Regions from separate parts of the Homo sapiens genome. Here region 2 is linked to region 1. A link means that fine-mapping ties the variant in region 1 to the expression of a gene that starts in the linked region. Tissue or cell type: whole blood. Region 1 holds a variant in brackets; the other region holds the start of a gene. All regions are shown on one strand. Distances are from middle to middle.

The links. PIP is the estimated chance that this variant, and not a neighbour inherited with it, causes the effect.
Region 2: MUC20 starts here. The variant in region 1 is fine-mapped to the expression of MUC20 in whole blood (TOPMed, PIP above 0.99).

What each region holds. Positions count from the first base shown.
Region 1 is chr3:195,587,195-195,592,343 of GRCh38, forward strand. No RefSeq gene overlaps it. Among named protein-coding and RNA genes, the nearest start is that of APOD, 5.8 kb to the left of the region's middle. The variant C/T (reference allele first, on the strand shown) is at 2,952.
Region 2 is chr3:195,718,489-195,723,637 of GRCh38, forward strand. MUC20 (mucin 20, cell surface associated) reads left to right here and starts at 2,490. Exons shown (of 4, transcript NM_001282506.2): 1 at 2,490-2,595. The coding sequence starts at 2,520.

The sequences.
Region 1 (5,149 bases):
TCACTCTTTAAGACTCGGCTCAAATGTCCCCCTCCCTGGGTCATCTTCTGGATTCCTAGCCCACCCCACGCAGCGTTCTCCCATCTGCTTTGTGTTTTCATGGCACATGTCACCCTGTCCTCACTCATTACACTATGCTTATGCCTCCATCTCCTTCTGGAGACGGTCAGATCCACCCAAGTAGGATTGTCTTTTTATCCCTGGCACCTTACATGATGCCTGACACGTAAGTGTTTACTAAATATTCCGTGAATGATGGAATGAATAATAGAATATGCTAGATTCTCAGTCCTTGCTGGGCTTGTTATAGACCTCATTATTCATTCAGAGGCCCTCTTTCCTCTCCCTCCTGTGCCCTGGTGGCCATTTCCCTTCTCACTGGGCTCTGGAACTAGTTGAAAGTTTAATGGTGCCAAGCATCTGGTCAACAGGAAGACAGCAATCAAACTGGTGAAAACAGCAGCTTGATATGGCATGCAGGGAAGAACACTGGACTGGGGGCAGGAGGCCTGGGTTCTGGTCCTAGCTCTGTTACTAATTTATTTATCCATTCATTCACGCATTCAACAACATATAGCAACACTACGTTGCTGTATGTATACACACACACACACACACACACACACACACACACACACACGGGGGTGCGGGGCACTGTTCTGAGTCCTGCAGATATAGTGGTAAAGAAGAAAGACAATGTCTCAGCCCTTGTGGGACTTACCTCCCAGAGGCGAGATAGACAGACAGACAGGAAAAATACCTAATTAGAGTGGGTTGAGGAGGGAGAGTACCTATTTTTCCTGTCTATCTGTGTGACTCTCCTCTGGGAGGTTAGAAAAGAGAATAGGATGACGTGATAGGAAGTGAAGGGTGCCCACTTCGGTCTGGTGGTCAGGAAGAGTCTCTTTGAATACTGACATTTCAGCTGAGATGTGAGTGATGAATGGGAACCAGTCATTCAAACACCAAAGGAAGAGTGTTCCAGGAAGAACTGCCAGTGCAGGGGTCCTAAGGTGGGAACAGACATTAAGTTTTTAAGAAATGGAGAGACCAGTTTGGCTGGAGCAGAGGTGAGGAGGAAGTGAGTGTGGAGAGGTAGACAGAAACCAGAATCTATCTTGCTTTGAGGACCTTGAATTTTATTTCAAGTACAGTAGGAGTCATGGGAAGGTTTTAGGCAAGAGCATGACATGGTTATTTGGGCTTGACTATCAAGAATGGAGAATAAAATGGTTACAGATGGATCAGCTGAGGAGCCCCTGTGGTCATTTGGGAAATAGTTTGATGGTGGTTTGGGCTAGAGTGATTAGCATACAGATGGAGAGAAGTGGGCAAATTTGGAATGTGCTTTGGAGATAAAGTGGACAAGACTTGCTGATGGGCCGCAGGTGGAAGATGAGGAAAGCCGGGAATCGAGACTGGCTCTTAGATGTAAAGGTTGAAAAATCAGGTGAACGCACCTGCCAGCTGCTACAGATGGGAAGCCTGGAGGGTGAGTCTGGGAGAAGAACTCAAGTTCTTTATGGATAAGCTATGTTTGAGTTGCCCCATCAGACATCTAAGTGAAAATGTTAAGAAAGCAATTAGATATTCAAGTGAAGTTTGGGGGAAAATCAGGGCTGGAGATAGAGATTGGGAAGTCATCAGAACATACATGGTCTTCAAAGCCATGAGACTGGATGGGAACACTAAGGGAGGACATTTAGAAATGGAAAAAAAGGATGCCCAGGACAGATCCCTGGTACCCTCTAACCTTCAGAGACTGAGCAGAGAAGAAGGAGCCAAGAAAAGAGGCAGGGGGAGCAGGGAGGGCAGAAGTCCAGTTGGAGTGGGTTGAGGAGGGAAAGAGGAGGCAGCAATGCTCTTTACCTGTGAAGGAAAGTAGAGAAATAGTAGTTGAACAGAGACCTGCAGGTTAAGGGAGATGCTTAGAGCATGCACAGAGGGACGATCTAGTAGAGGAAAAATCTGCAGGAGAGAGGGGAGGGATCCAGAGTGCAGGTGGAGGTGCTGGCTTTGGAGAGAAAGGAAGGTTCTGTGTCTGTAGAAACAAGAGGAAGGCAGAGAGTAAACACCCAGATGAAGGAGCTGTGTAGATCAGGAAGAAGCTGAGACAGGATTTTCTCTTTGTGTGACTGTGGTCAAGTCATGTACTTTGCTGAGATGTGTGGGAGAAATAGGTCTGCTCTGATGATGGTGGAGGGTCTTTTCTGAACACATCCACTTGGCTAACAACACCTGCCTTAGCACCTGCTTTATTTGTAAGGGACACAGTGTGGTATCGGGGGAACCCGCCCCCAATATTTCAATGCAGGTTCTTTCTATTTTCCATAAGTGTCAGCCAGCTGAGAAATAAAGAGAAAGAGTACAAAGAGAGGAATTTTACAGCTGGGCTGCTGGGGGTGACATCACATATCAGTAGGAACGTGATGCCCACCCGAGCCTCAAACCAGCAAGTTTTTTATTAAGGGTTTCAAAAGGGGAGGGGATGTAAAGCAGGGAGTAGGTACAAAGATCACATGCTTCAAAAGGCAAAAAGCAGAACTACTAATAAGGGTCTAACAAAGATCACATGCCTCTGAGGGAACAGGACAAAGGGCAAAAGCAGAACCACAGATAAGGGTCTATGTTCAGCAGTGCACATATTGTCTTGATAAACATCTTAAACAACAGAAAACAGGGTTCAAGAGCAGAGAACCAGTCTGACCACAAATTTACCAAGGCAGAGCTTTTCCCCACCCTAATAAGCCTGAGGGTACTGCAGGAGACCAGGGCATATCTCAGTCCTTATCTCAACCGCATAAGACAGACATTCCCATAGCGGCTGTTTATAGATCTCCCCCCAGGAATGCATTCCTTTCCCAGGGTATTAATATTAATATTCCTTGCTAGGAAAAGAATTCAGCGATATCTTTCTTACTTGCACGTCCATTTATAGGCTCTCTGCAAGA[C/T]GAAAAATGTGGCTCTTTTTGCCCAACCCCGCAGGCAGTCAGACCTTATGGTTGTCTTCCCTTGTTCCCTAAAAATCACTGTTATTCTGTTCTTTTTCAAGGTGCACTGATTTCATATTTTTCAAACACACATGTTTTACAATCAATTTGTACAGTTAACACAATTATCACAGTGGTCCTGAGGTGACGTATATCCTCAGCTTATGAAGATAACAGGATTAAGAGATTAAAGTAAAGACAGGCATAAGAAATTAGAAAAGTATTATTTGGGAACTGATAAATGTCCATGAAATCTTCACAATTTATGTTCCTCTGCTGCAGCTCCAGCTGGTCCCTCCATTCAGGGTCCCTGACTTCCCACAACAGTGTGGAAGGTGCAACCCAGAGCTTATTAGAATAATGACTCCTAACCACAGAATGCAGAATGCAACACATCAGGTCCTGTGTAGGTGCTTTCTGTACCTTAGCTCTAATTGTTGCTACACCCTAAAAGGCAGGCATGACTACTATTCCCATTAGAGGGATAAAAACACAGAGAGGGCCAGGTGCAGTGGCTCACGCCTATAATCCCAGCACTTTGGGAGGCGGAGGCAGGTGGATCACTTGAGGTCAGGAGTTCCAGACCAGCCTGGCCAACATGATGAAACTCCGTCTCTACTAAAAATACAAAAATTAGCAGGGGGTGGTGGCGGGCGCCTGTAATCCCAGCTCCTCGGGAGGCTGAGGCAGGAGAATCACTTGAACCCGGGAGGCGGAGGTTGCAGTGAGCCGAGATGGTGCCACTGTACTCCAGCCTGAGTGACAGAGTGAGACTCCAGTTCAAAAAACAAACAAACAAACAGAGGGGAGGGGGAGATGGCCATGCAACTTTTCTGAAGCGATGAAGTGAGAATTTAAACCCTGACCAAACTCATGCTTTTATCCATTACATTCTCTTACCCCAGCAGGGAGAGAAAGGAGTGAAAGGGCTCAGCTGGGAGATGGGCCAGGGGTTAATGCTCTCAGGTTAAATACCTGCCAGTCTTCCCAGCAGAACAAGGGGGCACCAACTGCTCACTAATTCCTAACAAGAGTTGAGGGCCGAGACGTCGGTAGCAGGCTCAGAGGCCAGTGTTCCAGACTCCCTGACCCTGACCTCCTGAAAGCAGAGGAATTGACCCATCTACTCAGTCCACAATCCAACAGTGCTGCCCACCACGTTTAGGAGTTGGGCGTCTCAACCAGTCACCAGTGCCCTGGCCAAATCCTCCACCAATTTACTGTGACCCTAAGCTTTTCCAGATGTTTACCGAGAAATAATATTTGCCTGGTGTTGCAATCCTGGATAAAGCAAGGTCAGTTCTTATGAATACTCTGAGGGCCAGCAGGGTTTCCTCCACACCTTCCCACATGGATGAAATTCAGTTTTCAAAGCAGAGGCAGCAAGATTTCTGTTTTGTTTTTCTTAGTTTCCTGAAATATTAAATTAGTAAAAAACACAAAAGCACAGGTGCAGGAATAAGGAGATGGGGTTCCTGTCCAAGGCCTCTCACTTCTTCGCTGAGTGACCTTGGAGAGTTTCCTAAGTTTTCAGCAAGAGGTTTGGCTGTCAGGTGTTGATCATCTGAAATCCATGGATGTCCATAGGAAGTTGGGTAGAATTGTTTTTCAAGATAATTGAATTCCTTTGTGATCTCATGTCTTTTATTTTATGTATTTATGGATATTTTTTTGCCAAGCTGTCAAAGGGGCACACGGCACAGAAAGGGTTGAAATGCTGCCAGAAGATCTGTGGGGTCCCAGCTTGACTCAACATTCTGTCATTTCCATTAGTGTCCCTTCTGGGATTGGGATTCTCTTAACCAAGTCCATCTGGGTGTGGAGGAATTAAGGGAAGTTTCTCAATGCTGGGTCAGAGGGGTCAATAAACAAGAGGCAATGGAACCATCGCAAGTGGGCTGGGGCCCAGGCCCCTGGAGGGAGACACCCAGGCTCTTGGGCCTCACATGCTGTCATCATCTGGGTAGCAGGGCTGTCACATCCACACACTCATAAGTGGAGTTGGGGACCACTCCTGAGAGGCAGGAGCAGGCTGCAGCCTGAGATGTCTTGGAAGCCATGTGCTGCCTCGAGAGAGAAAGGAGAAGGAGGGAGGGAGAGGATGGGAGCAGGAGAGGAACTGTGACCTGGACCATCCTCCTGTCTCTCACGTCATTTCC
Region 2 (5,149 bases), 130 kb after region 1:
TGCTTTCTGTCTTAAAAAACAAACAAACAAAAACAACAAATGCTCTTTCACTTACTTTTCTTCCTCCCTATACCTCCTCCTGCCTTTGCCATCTGCGGGACCAAAAAAATCTAGAGAAGGCTTCCAATGACTCGAGCCCCTTTAAAGGATCCGGAACAAAGGGGCCACTCACCCCTTCCAGGGTGCTCTGTTTTCTTTGTGGAGTTTCAAGAGTGATGGGCGGATTCTTCTTAGGTCTAAAGCTCTGCTGTCTTCCTGTACGGCATGACCTGACCTCTTTGGCTTTGGGGGAACCAGAGATGACCCTGCACTGTGAGAGGATTTGACCTTGGCGTGTGTAATGGCAGACGAGAACTACAAAGAAGGGGTGGCTGAGCACAGTTTACAGGGAATGGTCTTGGCTGTTTTTTTGTTTTTTTTTTTTTCTCTTCTAGGAAGCTGTGATTTAAGGATCCTAATTCTAGTTCAGAGATGCATCCTAAAGGGTCTTCTCTATTGCTTTTTCTCCCAAAATGAATCTCAGTTTGGGTTGTCTATGTATTTGCATGAGGAACTGAACTGTTGTTGTCATAGGTAAATGAGAGATTGAGTTTTCTCAGCTCCAAAGAGAAAGGGCGTTTGCTCCTCCCAGCCGAGTACTCCATAGGGTTCATGGCGCCTCTACTTGCCAGAGTTTATGTAAAGTGGAAGTAATATGGTCTTTCTGCACATTTACATTAAAAAAAAAGGAGCCCTGAGGTTGACCTGCAAACTGTAGAGTTCCTGAGTCCTCTTTTTTCTCTAGTTTCTTCTCTGCCTGCTTTAAATTTGCTGTTATTTTTCTATTAAGATAAAAAACACTGTTTGGATCAGATAGTTTTTCTGTTTGTAAACTGGTGAATTTGTATTTATTTCATGGCTAAATTTCTTTTTTTCTTTTCTTTCTCTTTTTTTTTTTTCTTTTTTTTTTTTTGAGGCAGAGTTTCACTCTTGTTGCCCAGGCTGGAGTGCAATGGCGTGATCTTGGGTCACCACAGTCTCCTCTTCCCTGGTTCAAGTGATTCTCTTGCCTCAGCCTCCCGAGTAGCTGGGATTACAGGCATGCACCACCATGCCTGGCTAATTTTTTGTATTTTTAGTAGAGATGGGGTTTCTCCATGTTCGTCAGGCTGGTCTCCAACTCCTGACCTCAGGTGATCTGCCCGCCTCGGCCTCCCAAGGTGCTGGGATTACAGGCGTGAGTCACCGCGCCCAGCTTTCATGGCTAAATTTCTGAAGTAAAAGCTATAGGATCTTTGTGTGTGTGTATATATTTAAAAGGCCTTTATAATTTCTATAATTTTATGTTTAATTGGCAATTAAATCTGTTTTAATTTCCCTCCAGCACACCAGACTTTTTCTCTCCATACGTTATGATGTAAATTTTGCTATTCGATTTTCACCTCAGTTTCCTTAAAATGCAAATTCAAGGCTATTTAGCTGACAACCGCTTAGAGTAGTAAAACAGGTTATCAAGAATTCGAAGGTGTGGCTGGGCACGGTGGCTCACGTCTGTAATCCTAGCATTTGGGAGGCTGAGCCGCAAAGATCTCTTGAGGTCAGGAGTTCAAAACCATCTTGGCCAACATGTTGAAACCCCGTCTCTACTAAAAATACAAAAAAAATTAGCCAGATGTGGTGGCAGGTGCCTATAATCCCAGCTACTCAGGAAGCTGAGGCAGGAGAATCACTTGAAGCCAGGAGGCAGAGTTTGCAGTGAGTCGAGATCAAGCCATTGCACTCCAGCCTGGGCAACAGAGTGAGACTCTGTCTCAAAAAAAAAAAAAAAAAAAGTAAAAAAGAATTTGAAGGTGTAAGAAAAAAGCTCTTTATGAATCTATAAGATGAACTTCTTTCAGCATACCTAATACATCTGTGTATTTATGTGTTGTTGTGTACACAGTGTTTTGCTACTGAAAATATATAAAAGAGCTCTAATTAATTGGCTTAAGAAAATAAAAGCACTTGGCTGGGTGCAGTGGCTCATGCCTGTACTCCCAGCACTTTGGGAGGCTGAGGTAGGTAGATCACCTGAGGTCAGGAGTTTGAGACTAGCCTGGCCAACATGGTGAAACCCCATCTCTACTAAAAATACAAAAATTAGCCCGACGTGGTGGTGCGCGCCTATAATCCCAGCTACTCCAGAGGCTGAGGCAGGAGAATTGTTGGATCCCGGGAGGAAGAGGTTTCATTGAGCTGAGATCTCATTACTGTACACTCCAGCCTGGGTGACAGAGCAAGACTCCATCTCAAAAAAAAAAAAAGAAGCTAGTGATTCCATATCTTCAAATCAAATTTCAGTGGAGTGTTTACCGGGCAAGGAAGGCAGGGGGGTCAGCTTGCTGACAGCCTCAACCTGCCAGCCCTCAGCCTGCACATTTGTGATCACCTGGTCACACACCTGGGCAGGAGGCTGCCCCTCCTCCCTGGTTTGAGGAAGCAGGAAAAGGTACCCGCGAGAGACAGCCAGCAGTTCTGTGGAGCAGCGGTGGCCGGCTAGGATGGGCTGTCTCTGGGGTCTGGCTCTGCCCCTTTTCTTCTTCTGCTGGGAGGTTGGGGTCTCTGGGAGCTCTGCAGGTAAGGAGGCCTAGAAGGGCCTGGTGGGCCTCTCCCCTAGTAGGGCTCTGGGAGTGAATTTCAGTATGAGCCACCCTTCATGGGCAAGGGCAGGCTCTCTCGGGTTGATTATAATGAACCACAGTGCTACTTGTGAAGTGCTATTATTGTTGATAAAGAGTGTGCAAATGACAGTGTGAGTGTAAGCGTGCATGGCGCTGCAGTACACACTAATCAACCATGACGATGTGTGTGAGTGTAAGCGTGCCTGGCGCTGCAGTACACGCTAATCAACCATGACGCTGCCATCGTAAGGGATGGCTGAGAGTTTGTCTTTATGAACGTGGGACAGTAAGTGGGGCACGGAGCGGGGGTGCAGGGAGGTGCCAGCTGGTGATCATTGTGCAGAAAGCTGAAGAATGTGGCTTAACAAGATTCTGACTCCTCCCAGTTTATTACCTAGCATGGATTTCCTTCAAAATACAGATTTCGTGTGAAAAGTCCAACTGCCACAAACTGCTTGGGAAGGGTGGATGCTGACAGGCAGGGCTTTTGTGAAAGACGGGAATGAACCCTGACCTGTCGCTAATAGGAGTTGTGCCAAACTCATCACATACATTAAAAAATAGAAAAGGATTTATTTTTTTTTTAGTTCTATGCTCCCTCTAAACCTCGAGTGGAGAGGCCGGGCGTGGTGGCTCACACCTGTAATCCCAGCATTTTGGGAGGCTGAGGTGGGTGGATCACCTGAGGTCAGGAGTTCGAGACCAGCCTGACCAACATGGAGAAACCCCGTCTCTACTAAAAATACAAAATTAGCCGGGGGTGGTAGCAGGTGCCTGTAATCCCAGCTACTCGGGAGGCTGAGGCAGGAGAATTGCTTGAACCTGGGAGGTGGAGTTTGCAGTGAGCTGAGATCGCACCCTTGCGCTCTGGCCTGGGCAACAAAAGTGAAACTATGTTTCAAAAAAAAAAAAGCTGCAGTGGAGAGTCTGGAGTTCCCATCCCCACCACTCACAGCCTCCCCCATCATCAGCGTCCCCCACCAGAGTGGCACATTTGATAGGACTGAGGAACCTACTTTGATGCATCATTATCATACATTGTATTTTTAATCCTCACAACGGCCCTGCAAGATCGGCCCTGTTTTTACCACCCCCCACCTCCACTGCTTTAAGGGTGAGGCCACTGTGCTTCTGGGCATCCAGTAACAACTCCTCGGAGCCAGAATCTGACTCCTCACAGGCCTGAGCACTGCACCCCGTGGCCTCCTGCCTGTGCTCACCGTGGCCTGGTCTGCGCTGCACGTGTCCCGTTAGCTCCACCTTACAGGTGCGGAAATGCAGGCTTGGAGCTGAGAGACTTGGCCAGGGTCACAGGGCAGAGAGCAGATTCTCCAACTCAGGGTCCCAAGTCCACACGCTTTCCTCTCCACCAGATTTGAAGATTGTACCAGGAGAGCCGCAGTGTTCCAGAGCTACTGAGGGGCTGGGCTGGGATTTGCTGTATTCGAGAAGACCCCCTTGGACCCGAGAGGCTGTGGGCTTGGGGAGCATGAGGAGGTTTCACAGCAGAAAGGACACCCCGGGGCTCCTGGATAAGCCAGAAAATGTGCCAGGGGAAGTCGGGCTCCAAGGGCACCACTCTGGGCTTCCAGCTGTGTGGGCTGGACCAAGAAGGCTCAAAGAAATGATCTCAGGCTTGAAGTGGGGAGAAGAAACTGTATTATGAAGGCAGACGAACAGTTCCTGCAAAAGTGAGATTTGTGTGTGCAGCTGGGCCGCACTGGACCAGGGATGAGAGTGGGTGCCCGGGACTCGCCTATACTGCCTGGGGGTGCAGCCCGCACTCCTCACTATAGTCAGATCAACTATGCGTGCTTTCCAGTGGCCTGGGAGAGGACTCCATAGGGAGGGATGCTTACCTTGTGGGCTTTGGAATATAAGCCCTTTCACCTTCTCCGCTGGTCCTCATCACGTTGGCAAGGCAGGTATTGTGACCCTGTTTTCTCAGGTGAGGACATGGAGGCTGGGAGGGGTCTAGAGACTGGCCTGGCTAGTAGGAGGCTGAGTCAGGATTTGAACCAGCAGATCATCTGACCCCGGAGCCAGTCGTGGGCGGCACAGCGGGAGCTGCAACCGAGGCTCTTGACTCCTGCGTCGTCATTCCCTGAGGTCCACAGGACAACCAGTTGGGGACCTGGGGCCCCATCCTGATGCCCTGGGGAGAGGTGCTAGGCCCCTTTTGGGTCTATGGGCTACTTTTGGGCCAGTGGAGCTGGGTAAAGACCATCTCAAACCCTGTGCCAGGGGAGGTCAGACTCCAAGAGCGCCACCTTTGGGCTTCCAGCTGTGTAGGCTGGACCAAGAAGGCTCAGAGAATTAGGGGGTTCGTATTTGATCCTTTTCCTTCCAAGACTGGGATTACCAGATAAAACACAGGGCATCCAGTTACATTTGAATTTCAGGTAACAATTTTTTTTAAGTGTAAGTATGTAGCCAATATTGCATGAGAAATACTCATGCTAAAAAGTTATTCGTCGTTTATCTGAAATGCAAGTTCAAATTTAACCGAG